2 separate regions of the Homo sapiens genome follow, and region 2 is linked to region 1. The links come from fine-mapping of genetic effects on gene expression. A gene starts in region 1. The other region holds a variant in brackets. All regions are shown on one strand. Distances are between the middles of the regions. Region 1 holds the start of MKS1 (MKS transition zone complex subunit 1). Region 2 overlaps EPX (eosinophil peroxidase).

Evidence for each region.
Region 2: its variant is fine-mapped to the expression of MKS1 in breast (GTEx, PIP 0.94).

The regions. Positions count from the first base shown.
Region 1 is chr17:58,217,639-58,220,654 of GRCh38, forward strand. MKS1 (MKS transition zone complex subunit 1) reads right to left here and starts at 1,617. Exons shown (of 18, transcript NM_017777.4): 1 at 1,513-1,617; 2 at 982-1,091. The coding sequence starts at 1,592. LOC105371841 (a long non-coding RNA gene) reads left to right here and starts at 1,676. Exons shown (of 2, transcript XR_934884.4): 1 at 1,676-2,421. RefSeq lists an enhancer at 1,445-1,724.
Region 2 is chr17:58,194,598-58,197,097 of GRCh38, forward strand. It overlaps EPX (eosinophil peroxidase), which reads left to right. Exons shown (of 13, transcript NM_000502.6): 6 at 367-573; 7 at 2,342-2,500. Among named protein-coding and RNA genes, the nearest start is that of EPX, 3.1 kb to the left of the region's middle. The variant A/G (reference allele first, on the strand shown) is at 1,250.

The DNA.
Region 1 (3,016 bases):
TCTCTACTAAAACTTTAAAAAAAAATAAACTGAGTGTGAGTCTGTAGTCCCAGCTAGTTGGGAGGCTGAGGCAGGAGGATGGCTTGAGCCTGGGAGACCAAGGTTTACAGTGAGCTATGATCATACCACTGCACTCCAGCCTGAGCAGAAGAATGAGATTCTGTCTCAAAACAAAACGAAAACAAAAACAAAGAAAACAAATCTAATCTAATACACTCTTGGGTATGCCTTTTTCAGAGACACGTTTCACAACCTGTGAGCCCACACTCTTGCCCAGGAACAGCTCTGAACAGAAAGAGAAACAATAAAAGCAAACAGACTAGTGACCTGACAACAACCACTCTGTCCTCTCCTCCTCATTCTTTTGGTTTCCCAGATAAGGAAAACCACAAGAACACAGTTGATCTATACATGCACATCATATGCAGATTTTGCAAGCAGTCTCCAGTTTAAAAATTGTTTTTAAAAGTGTTTATATGTGTATTTAGGGTTTGGGGCACGTTTTCTCTTTTAAAAATGCCACAAATAGGACGGGCGCGGTGGCTCACGCCTGTAATCCCAGCACTTTGGGAGGCCAAGGCGGGCGGATCACGAGGTCAGGAGATCGAGACAATCCTGGCTAACACGGTGAAACCCCGCCTCTACTGAAAATACAAAAAATTAGCCGGGCGTGGTGGCGGGCGCCTGTAGTCCCAGCTACTCGGGAGGCTGAGGCAGGAGAATCGCGTGAACCCGGGAGGCGGAGCTTGCAGTGAGCGGAGATAGCGACACTGCACTTCAGCCTGGGGGAAAGAGCAAGACTCCGTCTCAAAAAAAAAAAAAAAAAAAAAAAAAAAAAAAAAGCCACAAATAGAATGTAGGTTGCCGGGCAACTCTATAACATATCAGAAGTATAGTATTTGTTATCTCACTACATTTGGCCACAATTCTGATTAGTATCATAATTAGTATTAGATGGCACATCACCACCGTAACACCCACTGGCAGTTGGCTGAGGCCTAAAAGTGGCCAAGTCTATGAGGTCCTTCCCGAGCTCGGCAGCAGGCTGATAATGAAGAAAGTTGCTTGATGTGATTCTTTGCAGGTGGACTCTGTCAAGAAAAGCCCAAAATATTCGTTACCAGACACGCAACCAGGAGATGAACACAAAGCAAGGATGGGGGAAACAAAACAGAGGAGGTAGGGTTGCCAAGGTGTGCTGGGTGCAGACAACGGAGAGGAGGTGGGTGGGTGCGCCGTCCTATGGGGAAGAATGAAGGGGAGAGGGTGTACTGGGGGCACAGGGCTTTGAGAAACTGGGAGCAACAAAGACGTGAATGGACTTGGGTAGGTCTGTAAGGGGTTCTTAGAGGCTGTGAGTGGATGGGGGTACGGATAGTGAAAGAAGTGGGGAGCCCGGAGAAGTGGTCGGGATTGTAAGCAGAAAGTGGGGACCTCAGAACACCGAGCTCAGGTTGGAATGATCTAAGGACACAAAAGCATGGGGCCTCGGGGCTGGGGCGGTGCGACTACCGGAGGCGCAAGTTGCGCACGGGGTCCCGGGAGCGATACACTGCCTCCCCGGTGTCAGTGCTCCAGACGGTCTCCGCCATGACAGCTGCGACGCGCCGCGACTGCGCCGGAAAGCGCGCCGCTCTGTTTTCCTGGCAACGGAGACGCTGGATCGGGAGGCGACGGAGGTGCTGCGCGCGCAACCCGCCGTTCCCGTCACGGCGCCACGGTCGCAGTTGGCCACACAGTGCAAGTGCAGCCCAAGCCGAACGCCCAAGAGGGCTCCGGGGTCCTACCGATCACCGCTTACCATGTATGCGATAAAAGCTCACCGAAAGCGGGACCTCGTGCGCTGTGCAAATGAGGAAACTGGCACAGCCATCAGCCCACTTCATATAGACAGATAGATGCAGAAATGATGACGGGGACCAGGTGGCCTGAGTCTTCGCCCTCTACCTTTTCCACCATGCCACACTGCCTTCCACCCAACGCGTGAAAACTTTGGCCTGAAAATCGGGTGATGTGACTGTAAGAAATGCACCCATTATTCCCAAAGGAGTCAGGGAAGGTGATGGCCCTTAGCCAGACAAGAAAATATATTCTTGGAAGACAAAAAAAGTGTCAGAAGATTTATTAGTCTTTGTGTTGATATTCACTGAGCAAAGAAAGAAAAAACAAGGAAGTCAACAGTAAGGAAGGAAACGATGTTATTATTGAACTGATTCTTACCTTGTGTATGTTAGTTTTGGATCATTAAGCCACTTTGTTACTGCACTGGCTTCCTGAAAAGCCAAAAAAGTGACATTCACAAGTCATGCTTCGTTGTACTAGCAAAGGAAGGACATGCTGTAACCTCACGTCTGGCGTCCCGGCACTTTGGGAATGTCAACATTTATCAGCCTTGTTCACATCTAGTCCTCCTCCAACAAAGTAAGCAATTGTCCCCTGAACTCGGGAATCTCATGCCAGTTTGATGATTTGGCATTGGAAGCTCTGGGTGCCATAGCCACTAGTTGTGTAACACCGACTCACCATAAATAGCACCATTTATTTAGGATCTAGTGCAGCTTGAGCACTTTTGTTTGCATTGTCCCAAATCCTTGTAGAAGCCTCTCAAAAAGGTACTTTTATTCACTTTAAAAATGAAGTTCGTGAAGGCCAGGGTTTAAAGGACTTGCTAGCTTGCAAGTGGTAAAAGTACTGGGATTCTAGCCCAAGTTCTTCTGTCTTTTGAAGCCTAACCACCTTCCAGTTTGCCTCACAGCCTCTCACCTACCAATTTATTCCATAAACGCACACATTTCCAACCTGGGAAATAATAATTTTTTTTTTTTTTTTTTTGAGACGGAGTCTCGCTCTGTCGCCCAGGCTGGAGTGCAGTGGCGGGATCTCGGCTCACTGCAAGCTCCGCCTCCCGGGTTCACGCCATTCTCCTGCCTCAGCCTCCCAAGTAGCCGGGACTACAGGCGCCCGCCACTACGCCCGGCTAATTTTTTGTATTTTTAGTAGAGACGGGGTTTCACCG
Region 2 (2,500 bases), 23 kb before region 1:
ACCTGGCAACCAGCCCATGCACCTGTGAATCCGTGCTATCATCTGGTTAGCTATCAGTGTACAAATTGATCTATCTATTTGATCTCCCTTCCCCTCTGGGAGAGCTGGTGAGGTCTGAGCCAGTCAACCTAGCCCCTCTCCTTCTCTTTACCACCGGAATCCTCAGGAGCCCAGCCAGAAACCATCCTTCTAGGAATGAGAGCAGGAGGTGGCTACGCCTCCAGGGACAAAAGGGGCATGGAGGGCAGAAGAGGAGAGGCTGTCAATTCCAGCAGGGGAGCTGCTGCTCCCTGAGTCCTGGGTTGGCTCTAATACCTTGTGGGGTCAGGGAGCCCATGTCCCGTGCTGATGTTATTTCCCCACCAGGTCCGGGCTGTCTCCAACCAGATTGTGCGCTTCCCCAATGAGAGACTGACCTCCGACCGTGGCCGAGCCCTCATGTTCATGCAGTGGGGCCAGTTCATTGACCATGACCTGGACTTCTCCCCGGAGTCCCCGGCCAGAGTGGCCTTCACTGCAGGCGTTGACTGTGAGAGGACCTGCGCCCAGCTGCCCCCCTGCTTTCCCATCAAGGTACCTACCCTCAGCCAATCTCCCATGCCCTTGTGTGGCCTCCCCCAAAGGCAAGGTGCTGGGGGTGGGGATCTGGAAGACTGGAGCACCATCCTTAAGGAGCTGCCTGTGGAGCTAGGGTATGAGACAGAGACACAAGAAACACAGCTGAGCAGAGACCCCGCGCCGTGTGTGTTTGAGAGGTGGGGGTAGGGCAATCTGCCAGGAGGCTCAGGTCAGGCTTCATGGAGTGGGAAGCCCTTGACACATGCCTTGACCCATGGGTCTGAATCCAACAGGGGAAGCCTCTGGGCCCCTGCTTTTGGCAACCTAAGGGCCTCTTAGCTCTTGCCCTTCTCTCCTTCCCAGAGTAGTCCAAGGGTCCTGCGGCTCTTGCCAGCTTCTTGGGCTTGGGCTGTAAGTAGGGTCCTAACCTTCAGGCTAGAAGCCAAGGACAGTGTGGGGCACTAGGGGAGGAAAGATAGAATCCAGGGAGCAGAGTCTCTGCTAGGAACATAGGGTTGACACACGTGCACACACACACTCTCTCACACACACACACGTGCACACACACGCTCCCTCTCACACACACATGTACACACACAGTCACCCTTAATAGGTGGGGCCACATTCATGAGGGATGACATGTGAGGGCCTCTGGATGGCCTCTCCCTGTTGCAACCTTATCTATTCCTCA[A/G]TCCCTGGCTTAGGGGCACCTCCTCTGGGGAGCCTTCTCAGATCTTCCTATTACACTTTTAACATATGTCCTCCCCTCCCCTCTCCTCTCTCTCCTTCCTTCCTTCTTCCTTCCTCTTTCTTTCTTTCTTCTTTCTTTCCTTTCCTTCCTTCCTTCCCTTCCTTCCTTCATTTCCTTCCTTCCTTTCTTTCTTTCTTTTTCTTTCTTTTTCTTTCTTCCGTCCTTTCTTTCTTTATCTTTCCTTCTTTCTTTCTTCTTTATTATTATTATTATTGTTTTGAGACAGAATCTCACTCTGTTGTCCAGACTGGAGTACAGAGGGGCAATCTCAGCTCACTGCAACCTCTGCCTCCTGGGTTCAAGCAGTTCTCATGCCTCAGCCTCCCGAGTAGCTGGGATTACAGGCATGTGCCAACAAGCCTGGCTAATTTTTGTATTTTTAGTAGAGATTGGGTTTCACCATGTTGACAAGGCTGATCTCAAACTTCTGGCCTCATGTAATCCACCTGCCTCGGCCTCCCAAAGTGCTAGGATTATAGGCGTGAGCCACCACACCTGGCCCACATATGGCTTTTCTATCAAGCACAGCAGATGCCACTTCAACTTAGTTTCTTAACTCTATGTGTGTGTGTCTTTTTCCACTGAACTGCCAGCTTCCTGCAACCTTTCCTGTGTTTTTTTAACCTTCATAATCTCCAAAGCAGCAAGCAAGAAAGGGGCTTAGAAAAGGTCTGTCGAATTGAACAGAATTAAAGAAGCTCAGGCCTAAGAGTCAAGAGAACTAAGTTCTAATCCCACCTTTCCTGCTAACTGGTTGTCACTTCCCCTCTCTGAGGCTGTTTTCCTTGCTGTAAAATGAGGATCGAGATTGTTTCAAAAGCCTCATTCATTCCTAACCTTTTGAGACTCTATGAAACAAAATGTTAAGGACACTCAGACTGACGGGGTGAGCAGCATGAGCCTGGGTGAGTCAAGGAGGGCTTCCTGGAGGAAGGGAGTTTTAAGCAAGGTTTTGAGGAGGTGGAAGATGACGGAGAGGAGTGAGTCTGCTATTGAGGGGGCCCCATGTCACTGTCTCCTCTTCCATCTCAGATCCCACCCAATGACCCCCGCATCAAGAACCAGCGTGACTGCATCCCTTTCTTCCGCTCGGCACCCTCATGCCCCCAAAACAAGAACAGAGTCCGCAACCAGATCAACGCGCTCACCTCCTTTGTGGACGCCAGCATGGTGTATGGCAGTGAGGTCTCC